2 separate regions of the Homo sapiens genome follow, and region 1 is linked to region 2. Evidence: fine-mapped expression QTL. A gene starts in region 2. The other region holds a variant in brackets. All regions are shown on one strand. Distances are from middle to middle.

The links. PIP is the estimated chance that this variant, and not a neighbour inherited with it, causes the effect. A credible set is the group of variants that fine-mapping cannot tell apart.
Region 1: its variant is the best candidate, but not a certain one, in a credible set for the expression of SEPTIN6 in macrophages (Alasoo 2018, PIP 0.57).

The regions. Positions count from the first base shown.
Region 1 is chrX:119,639,407-119,644,771 of GRCh38, reverse strand. SEPTIN6 (septin 6) reads left to right here. Exons shown (of 11, transcript NM_145799.4): 6 at 3,984-4,080. Among named protein-coding and RNA genes, the nearest start is that of MIR766, 4.8 kb to the left of the region's middle. The variant A/C (reference allele first, on the strand shown) is at 3,104.
Region 2 is chrX:119,690,602-119,695,966 of GRCh38, reverse strand. It overlaps SEPTIN6 (septin 6), which reads left to right and starts at 2,799. Exons shown (of 11, transcript NM_145799.4): 1 at 2,799-2,891. The coding sequence starts at 2,862. RefSeq lists silencers at 2,556-2,605, 3,116-3,245 and enhancers at 2,786-2,915, 3,736-3,785.

The DNA of each region.
Region 1 (5,365 bases), 51 kb after region 2:
CAGGTTCAAGCAATTCTCTGCCTCAGCCTCCCGAGTAGCTGGGATTACAGGCGCCCGCCACCACGCCCGGCTAATTTTTGTATTTTTAGTAGAGATGAGGTTTCACCATCTTGGCCAGGCTGGTCTTGAACTCCTGACCTCGTGATCCACCTGCCTTGGCCTCCCAAAGTGCTGGGATTACAGGCGTGAGCCACCACACCTGGCCGAAGACCCTTTTTAAAGAGACATCATGCAGTGTTGGGCTAGCTTGTCCTTCTGCTGTGTGAGGATGCGGCAAGAAGGTCCTCACCAGACCAGAATGCTGGTGCCTTGATCTTGGACCTCCCAGCCTCCAGAACTATGAGGAATAAATTTTTTTTTTTTGAATAAATTTCTATTGTTGATAAATTACTCAGTCTCAGGTAGTTTACTGTAGCAAGACAAAATGCACTAAGACAGATGGTGAATCTAGGAATGGACTCCCAAGGAAGGCTTGCGACTATCTCTTGTTGGAGTTTTCTGACACTGGGAAATCTGATATCCGAGGGCGCCTCATTGGAAGTCTGAGTGAGAGAGTCACACAGACTCTCCTGAGAGGCCTGTTTGTGTTTCAGCAGCAACACTGCCCTGCATCTATCAGAGTCTCTTCCCTGGGTCCACACATAGAAAATGTCACCACTGTCTGTCAGTTTCCTGCAGAGACCTGGGAAAAATAGCAGAAAGCCTGGCCTCAGATTTGGATCCCATTGGTAGGACCTAGAAGTATGGTCCGTGGTGGTGCGGGGGGAGGGTGGGTATCTGCTCTCTGCTCTGCTCGACTCTATTCTGGTTGTCAAAGCCATCTGTCTCTCAAAAGCAGTGGAACAGAGGGCCAGAGCCTGGTCCCCATGATTTCCTGCTTGTCATGGTTTGCTTCCTTCTAGCAGATGCCATGTAGCCAGGAGGCAGAGTGCGGACCACCCTAGGTGGCTGGGAGAGGTTGGCAGCCAAAGCTCGGTGGCCTCGCTGCTGCTTCAGAGGATCTGGGCATGGGGGTTAGGGACCTAGGCAACTCGTTTAACCTCCATGTATCCCAGTTCCCTCAGCTCACGAATGGATCTTTTAATCATTGCCATAGAAGGATGTTGTGAAAATCAAACCAAAGGAGAGCGCTGGGAAATGCCTACCTTGCATATACTTATCAAAGCAGACTGACGCCAGCTGCAAAGGAGCGTGCTGTGGGAGGGCTGGGGCTATGTTTTTGAGCTAGAAGAATAAAATGACAGCAGTTTGAGAAAGAGGGGGAAGCAAGTCACCCTATCATTCTGACGGTGTCTCTTGATGGTAAAAATGCAACAGGCCCGAGGGAATACTGACATTTTTGTATGCCTTTGTTTTCTTCTTGGTTTTTTTTTTCCTCGAGCTCAGAGAAGCACCTCCCAATTCACATGCCTTCCTCCTCCATCACTTACAGCTGAGAGCCCAGGAGGAGGGAGTGCTACAACGTGGTTTTTCTTTATCACCTCCTCCCTCAGTCTAGCTCTCTGCATTCGCCACCCCTTGGCTCTTCTGTGTCATGTGGCTGAAGCTGTGGGGTCTCTCCAGGGGAAATGTCCTCCCAGAAAGTGTTTAGGGGTGGATTCGAGGCTCCCGATATGTCTTAGGTCCCTGAGTAGGGATGAATTGTGCCCAGATCAACTCTCCTGGCAAAGATTGGACATGCTTAGGCCCTTGGGCAGCATTTTCAGGAATTCAGTGCTTCCCAAATGCCCTGTGTGTCACTTGCCCAGTTACTCTTTTGGTCATTCCCCTCCCAGGACTGATGAAACATTTCCCACCTCCACCCCACACCCACCTTCCATAATCCATAACCTCCTCTTTCCCATGTCCAGATTTAAGGGACAGTCAGTGGAGTGGGGAGGGGTCGGAGGGTGTCTGAGACGATCGTCTGATAGCAGCTGAGAGTGGAGAGGGTGAAAGAAGAGCAGCTTCAGCTGGCGGCCAAGCAATTTGAGGGACTGGTGGAGGTCCTGGAGCTGAGCTCCTGATGAAATCCTGTGTTCTTCTGCTCTGAAGGACATTTTTGGGGTCCAGAGCTAGAGGAGAATGGAGAAAAGAATTGACTGTGAGATCAGCCTGTGGATTAAACAAACAAGCGACAGATTTGCTGTGGGTTTCCCTGAATTGAATTGCCTCTGATAATCTGGTCTTGCACAACTAGTTCCCCCCAAGGTTTAGAGTACGCACCTCATCTACTGCTTGAACCCCCTAAATGGAGGTAGCAGACCAGCAAGGGGTGGGGTTTGAAGTTATTCTGTTCCTTACTATTGTGTGCCTGCTGACAAGTCTCTTAGCCCTTCTGGACCTCAGTTTCCCCATCTAAAGAGGAGACTAATAAGGCAACTTACCATATAGTGTTGTAGAGATTCAGTGAGACAATGCCATGTAAAGCAGCTGGTACCCAGTGCATAGGGCTTAACAAATTATTGCTAATGCTAATGCTGTTAGTATGATTGCCACTACCTACTCTGAAACAACTTATTTGACTTCCCAAGAATTGCTCCCTCCTCTGTGTTACTCCAGCCCTTTAGCCTCTGTTTACAACCTTGATTTTTCTTTTTTTTTTTTTTTTTTTTGAGACTGGGTCTTGCTCTGTCACCCAGGCTGGGGTGCAGTGGTGCGATCTCGGCTCACTGCAACCTCCACTTCTGGTACAACCCTGATCTTCCTGTATGATCGTTGTTGAGATGGCTTTCTCCCTTGGCACACTGTGCACTCTCCGGGGCCAGGGTCTGTGCTTTTTTGCTATTACGTCATTCTTAATGCCTAGCACATATCATAGGAGCTCAGTAAATATTTGTAGAATGGATGAGTGGGCAAATGGGTCAGAATATCTGAGATCATGGCCTGTTTCTGCAGGCAGGCTAAGAAACTTTCCCCATAGGCTCTTTACCTGTTGGTGTAAAGCCCTTTTGGGCAAAGCCCCACCTGGGCTCACCTGGTCAGTAAACATTGATTCCGTGGTTCCATCTGGCTGTGGTGACTTAGCACTTACAAGCTGGCTAGCTCCTTGTGGATTACGGCTCTGTGAGTGTTTCCTAGGCCCCATACTGCCAAGTCGGGGCAGCTCTCTCTTCTCTCATCC[A/C]TAAAGCCAGGCCAAGCTCCTCATTTTCCCTGTGAGCACCAAGCTCATAAACCTATTTGTCCTTTGCCTTTCTTTCCTCTTTCCCTAGCCCTACCACTGCCATTCAGGAAGTATTTATTAAGCACCTACTATGTACAGGGTACCAGACCATATACTTGAGCCCTTGATCACATACTATCTTATATGACTTGAGTTATGTAATTTGGGCTTCCTCAACAAGACTGTAAGCTCCTAGAGGGCGAGGGAGCGTGTCTTCTGCTGCTTCTGTCTGCCTTATAGCACCTACAGAAGAACCCAGCATGGTCATGTGAGTAAATCCTTGGTGACTTGCCTTCTAGGCTCACAAGTTCAATGTGAGCTCTTTCTCCGGGGAAGGATGAGAACAAGGAGAGTACAGCTCAGTTGGCTGTGTGGTCTCAGTATGGACCTAGTCTTGGGGCTCTTGCATGCCAGGGAGGGAGAAGGGCCAGTGATCCCAGACCCTTTGGTACTCCTTTATCCTCTCTATCCACACAGAACCCCCCTCATTCCACTTCCCCTTCTTCCAAAGGCTCTTCCCCTCAGCAGTAACTATGAATAGCGAATAGTTTGGTAATCTGTGTGTCTGCTTATTATTCTGCTTATTTTCTCTCTTTGTTCCCTATGCATTCAGCCATGTCATTGTTACCCTCTATTGTGAATTTCTGAACAGCAGAGGCTTGGACTAGGCCTCTTATCCTCACATGGTTTGGGAACTTAATAAATGCTTGTTGGTGATGATGACAGTGAGGGACATTGCAGGGTGAGGGCCTGGGGCCCCAGAGACGAACAGCAGTTGGGTTGTGTAACACTCAGTGCCTTTCTTCTGCAGTTCTCAGCTTTCGTTTGCCTTCGGTTTCAGGCCCACCTGCCGTTTGCTGTCATTGGCAGCACAGAAGAACTGAAGATAGGCAACAAGATGATGAGGGCGCGGCAGTATCCTTGGGGCACTGTGCAGGGTGAGTGAGTCTCCGGGAAGGGCTACACACAGGAAGCCCCTTTTGTCTGTCTCTTTGTTTGTCCCCAGCCACTATATGACAAGTTTCTAAATTGTCCCAAGTCTCTGCTCATTCGGCATGGGTCCCAAATAGCCATAGGGGTCACTAGCAAGCTAACTCTGGCTCCATACTGGGATGCTCTGATGGGAGCAAGCTCCCTCTAATTTCTAATGGGAAAGGTATTCCTAAAACACAAGGACTTGCAAGGTAGGAAGGAGTGTGCGAAAAAGCATGTGTTCTTGCCCAAGTGCACCTGAAGAATGTTCACAGTAGTGTTGTTTGTAATGACAAATAATTACAAACAATTCAGATATTCTTTAAAATAGACTGGATAGGCCGGGCACAGTGGCTCACGCCTGTAATCCCAGCACTTTGGGAGGCCGAGGCGGGCGGATCACGAGGTCAGGAGATTGAGACCATCCTGGCCAACATGGTGAAACCCCATCTCTACTAAAAATACAAAAAAAAAAAAAAAAAAAAAAAAGACTGGATAGTGGGAGGGTGGGAGGGGGATAAGGGATTTAAAAAAACTACGTGTTGGGGCTGGGCGCGGTGGCTCACTCCTGTAATTCTAGCACTCTGGGAGGCCGAAGAAGGCGGATCACCTGAGGTCAGGAGCTCGAGACCAGCCTGGCCAACATGGTGAAACCCCGTTTCTACTAAAAATACAAAAAAAAAAAAATTAGTCAGGTATGGTGGCATGTGCCTGTAGTCCCAGCTACTCAGGAGGCTGAGGCAGGAGAATCGCTTGAACCCGGGAGGTAGAGATTGCAGTGAGCTGAGATTTTGCCACTGCATTCCAGCCTGGGCGACAGAGTGAGATTCAAAAAAAAAGAAAGAAAGAAACATACCATTGGATTCCCTTTGTATGAATTCCAAAAGGAGGCAAAACTAAACAAGATATATATTCTTAGGAATGCATACATAAGAGGTAAAACTATAAAGAAAAACAAAGGAATGATAATCCCCAAAGTCAGGAGAAGGATTAAGTCTCTGCCAGGGGAGTTGAGGGATAGAGGGGGATGAGATTGGGAAAGGGCACTCAGGGGCTTCCAAGGTACTGGTAATGTTTAACCTGAGTTGTGGAGACATTGGTGTTAATTTTTCAAAAATTCTTTAAATTGTACATACACATTTCATGCTCTTTGTATGTATGATTATTTCACAATTGAAAAGCAATTAGACATATTGTATTACACTCAGGAAAGTTCCTTCTGTGATCTGCCTGACATATGTTAACTTACCC
Region 2 (5,365 bases):
AGTGAGCTAACACCTCTCTCCATATTGACACACATACACTCACCATGCATTGAAATACACTGACACACCAACACATGCCAACACACACATTGACACACAGATATACAGACACACAGCTAGCACACACTGACAATACACACGAACACACCGACACATCTACTCACACATCAAGACCAACACACACACTGACCCACACCCCACCGAAGGAGGCTGGAGGCCCAGGCCCCAGGAGGGACTTGTAGCCGCAGGTGGGCAGGTATTGGAGGAACCAAAGGGTCCCAGGAGACTTGAATTAAGCACTTAGTTCAGGTCTTCGAGGTTCAGCGTTTTGGAGGAGGAGGACGCAGTGAGGTTCTGGTAGTCTCTAGGGACAGGAGGGCCGAATGGGGCATATGGATGAGACACCAAGGATTCCGTGCTCAGGTGCCCCCAGCGCTGGGCCGGTAAGTACGGAGCTTCAGTCCGCGAGGAGTGCTAAGGCGGGCGGGGCAGTGCGTGGGGGATTCTCCCGGGAGACCCGCAGCCCTCCAGTCCCCTCCCGTTCCGGCAGCAGCTTTCTGCTCTGGCTTCCAAATTCTCCCCTTTTGTCCCACCACCACCCAAACCCCAAGTCCAGATCGGGGCTAGTGACCTCGGGGCCTTTCAGTCCACCACGCCCTAGCCTTTGCCAGGGAAGAGCCCTGTCCCAGACACCCAGCCTGGAAGCCGCCAGTCACCTCTGACTCCCCGCCCCCATGCGGTTGGGGCCCAAGCCTCACCGTGGTTCCTCAGATATAGCACTGGTCCCCCGTGTCACTGCCAACCCAGTCCAGGGCTCAGGCCCTGCCCCAAAGCTCCAGAGAGTCTGAAAGACTCCAGCTGCCCCTCTTCCTTGCCACCGCCATCCGCCCTATGGCCTGCGCCTTCTGTCTCGCGGAGCTCCTCTGCGCTGATCCCTGATTTTGCCAGGCTCTTCTCTTTAGGCCGCTCCTGGGTCTCCAGCACAATGAAGGCGCACAGTGGCGCTCCCTGAATACTTGGCTCTTCATGACTGTCCTTACTGCTATTCCCTCACTGTGTCTCTTCTTTCTTCTCCCCGCCCCCCTCGCACGCATCCAAGTTCTCTGCCCTCAGCTTAATAGAGTGCCTCCTGACTGCGAGGCCCTGCACTCGGCCCTGGGATGCGTTTGCTGAGTCCTTGTTCTCCAGGCGCACAGGGTACATACATAAAGGGCTTCCCGAGAGAGTGTGAGAAGCTCCATCCAGCAGGTGGAACCAAGTGCCAGGCATGCTCTTCTTTGGCTACTCCATTTTCTTGTCTTCCCTGACTTCTCCGAGACCAGGGCCTCTGGATCGAGTCCCTTCTTCCTCTCTCTCCCTGGTTCCTTCTTTTCTTTTTCCCTCTCTCCTGCCTCCTCCTCAGCTGCTCCAGCCTTGGGCCTTTACGGGGTCATCTTCCATGCTCCATTGGGGCCCCCTCTTGGGCCCGGGTTTCCTCCATAGCCTTGTCATCCCCTCCCCCATCTGGGGTCCCTCTGGCGGGCCCAGGTCTCTCTCCCACACCAGGGAACCTGCCCTTTTGAGGAGTGGAATGTACTGTCCCTCCCGCTGGGGCCTCGGGCATGCCAAATCTGCCAGCGTGCTCCAGTGACAGGGAGCTAGCAAGAGGCCAGTCCCAAGAGAGAGGGGAGGGCGCCAAGGCCGGAGAAGTGGAGAGGTGCCCACGAGAGAGGACCCGCGGAGGTGGGCCACGGGGATAAGGAGGGCGGGCGGGCGCACCCCTGCCTTCGGAAGTTCTCTCCTCTGCGCCCTATTGGCCGCCTTGTCCCGGGCTGAATGAGGGTCAAGGAGAAATCAGGGGGCGGGACAGAGTGACTGGAGGCCGCTCCCCGTCACCCGCCCCTCCATTTCGCTCCATAGAGCTGAGAACCTTCATCTCCAGCCCTTCCTCTGGTACTAGAAGGGGTGGGTGGTCTTGCTGAGCGTCTAGGGCTGGGTCGGAGAGAGGAGGCGTGGGTTCCGTCTGTACTAGGTACCCAAAGGTGGTGAGCTTGGCTCCACGAAATTACAGCCCACAGCACCCAAGGCTTGGAAACCCCAGGGCAGAAGCAGCGTCTCAAGACCTCTAGCCTCGGACCCCACATGCCACAGCTCAGCTCAGTTGCCGGGCTGCAGTGCGGCTCCCCCCACGGGCCCCCTTTCTAAGCTCTACTGTGGAGCGGCAGGTGCCGCAGGCCTCCCCGGTACCTCGGCCGCAGCTGCGCTCCCGGGCCATGGAGGGAGGGAGACACGACAGTGGGGCATCGAGACTCCAGCGGCCAAGGCGCACCCATCTAAGCACCTTGGGATCTCGGTGGAAAGGAAGGGGGGTAACGGGGGCCGGGAGGAGAACTGCAGAGCTCGGCCGCTGAGCAGAGTATGGGAGGGGGGAGGGGCGGGGGCTCCCTTCCAGCCTTCGGGGTCTGGGGACTTAGGGATGTAAAGGAGAGCAGGGGGGTGTGACAATTCAGCAGAGGTCGGGACGTACCACGGAGCCAAGTGGCGGGGGGGGCAGAGGACGTGGTCACCGAGGGGAGCCCCCGCCCCCCTTCGTAGAAGCCTATGGCTGGGGTTGCAGGAAGAACTGGAACTGGTCTGGCCATAGGGGGAAGCGGCGCGTTAAATCCGCCCCCTCTCCATACCCTACTTTCAAGGGGTGGGCGGTAGAGGGGAGGTTGGGGTTGGAGCAGCGGCGAGGGGGCCCCTCCCTTGCACCTCCCCCCACCGGACTTGGTCGCGCCCGAAGTGTAACACTTTCTCTTTGTCGGAGGAGCTCCTCTGTTTCCTGTGCAGTAGCTCCCGTTGCGGCGGCACCCGTGGCAGCCCTGGCGGACGCAGGAGCGATGGCAGCGACCGATATAGCTCGCCAGGTGGTAAGTGCAGAGCTTGGGTGCCAGGGCCGGGGCCGAGGGCCTGGTGAGGGTCAAGGAGACCTGGCCGCCGCCGCCACATCGCGAGGAGGGCAGTGGGCAGCATCCAGGAGCCAAGGGCACGGTGGGACTTCTGCTCCCGGGGTCAGCAGCTCAGTCCCTCAGCCTGTCCCGGAAAACGGTGGTGGCGCGCGGGGGGCGGGGGGCGGCAGGGGGGCAGGCAAAACCTGCGGGCCGGCGGCTGAACTTGCATTGCCCAAGAGCCGCAGTGAGCGCCACCGCCTCCCTCGCTGCAGCTGCGGCCCCACGGCTGGGGCGTTGCCGAATGAATGGCCGTAGGAGCCGCCGAGCCCTCCGGGTCCCTGGCACCCTGGCCTTGCCGCGCCCCTGCGCACGGCTGCCCGTTGTGACCCGGGACCGCACAGGCAAAGAGGCGCGGGGCTGGGGTTAGCCTGGGGCAGAAGGCGGTGAGTGGCGAGGGGGGCGGGGAGGTGACTGGCTGGGATAGGGTTTCTCTATATGCATTACATATGTGACTGCGTCTGTGTGTGTATCGGTGTGCGCGTATGTGTGCACGCGCGCGCGCTCGTGTCTTCCCGGGCGGGCGGCGGCGGCGCCGGGGTTCTGTCTGTGACCCAAAGAAGTCCGCGTGTTTCTCTGAGTGTGCTCACCTCTGTGGTGTGTGTCCGAACGCCTCTCTGTCTGCTTGTGCTGTGTGCCTCTGGGTCTCATTTGTGCGTCAGTGTGGGGTGCAGTTGGCTGGCCTGTAGGTGGCTGGCTGCGTATTTTGGCATGTTTTGGAGCGGGCCTCTGAGGATCTGTCTCGGGTGCATGTTCAGTGTAACTGGGCTTGTGTGCCAAAACCTGTGGAGCTGGCTTCTTTCTATGGAGACTCAGGAAAATAAGTGTGAGACTCGCAAAAGCGGTGCCGTCTCTTTTTTTGTTGGCGACCGACTCTGGGAAAAAAAAAATCTTCATTTAAAGAACTGAAGTTTTCCAGCCTGGGATGTGCAGAGAAACCATGTTGAAGTGACCTGAGGCTCCATGTTTGTTTTTTAAACCAGAAGTTTGGTTGCAAAGGGCGATGAATTCCATTTGGGGGGGACACCCTAGCTATTCTATTCATCCATGGGTATCTGGGACTTTAATAAGCCCACCAGCACCCCGAGGTGAGGAAGGAGTGGGAGACAGAGGTAGGTCAAATCCCATGACACCACATACTACTTGACGAAAATCTCTGAACCACATAAAAATGTTTTTCAACCTTGTAGCTTACTTATTTAGGAAAATAGTTCATGCAATGCAACTACAGTACAAAAAAAAAGCCTCTAGGTATTTGGTGTAATTGAAATTGATTTTACAAAATCTGAAGCCAGAATCTGATAATATTTTCTCTACAGAATATGTATTAATGTCTCTTTTGTCCCTGTTTGGAAGGGCAGGATCATTTCTTCGGAACCTCCTCCACCCCCTGCACACCCTAGCACAGAGCACTTTATGCAGTCATGTTGTGGAAGGACCAGGAGTAGACAGGGGACATTCTCTGTGATGATGCAATTTGAGAGAATTTTCTTCCCCCAAGATTGGCACTCTCGTTGTTTATTGCTTTAGTGTTTTGAGGGCTCCCTCTTTTCTGCTGTGGCTTTTCTGCTCCTGGTTACCTGCATTTCAGAGATGGTATAGCTGAAGTAGAGGAATTAATCTCTGGGATTACACTAGCTCCATCCAAAAATGACGCTAATGATTTTTCATGTCAGCTAATGAATTTGCATCGACCTGTCCTCCATACTCTCACCAGTTTCTCTTGCCTGGATTAGGATTGCAGGGCAGATGTTGCAATGGGGAACATTCCAGAAGGTTGTGTGTGTTTCACCTCAGGCACAACTCAGGCAACCTAGAGATGCCCTTTGTTCTGCAGATGGGGGTGAGGGGGTGCTTTAGGGCCACTTGGTTTGCTTTGCATGGCTCCAGTTTGCTCTGGCTGGCCTTGCCATACTGTATGATGAAGAACATAATTGTACGCCAGATTCTGAAGCTGAAAGAGCAGCCTAAGCACTCGAGACCTTGTTATCGTGATAAATGGGTTTCTGGGAAAACTGACGTCACTCTCCATGCCCCCCTCCCCCAGCCAGTGAAGCTCCTGTTTATGTGTCATTTGTCTCTCTGTTCTCCTTTGTGTCTGCAATAAGTTGTAATTCACCAGGGAAGACGGAGTTAACTCAGGAGACCTTGGACATCTGGTTGCTGCTTGTTTCCTCCAAGGAACATGTATTCAGGGTTTGGGAACAGAAGACTAGAGAATAAACCTAAGTGTGGCTAGCTTAGGAATTCTTTTTTTTTTTTTTTTTTTTTTTTGAGACGGAGTCTTGCTCTGTTGCCCAGGCTGGAGTGCAAGTGGCATGATCTCGGCTCACTGCAACCTCAGCCTCCCAGGTTCAAGCGATTCTCCTGCCTCAGCCTCCCGAGTAGCTGGGATT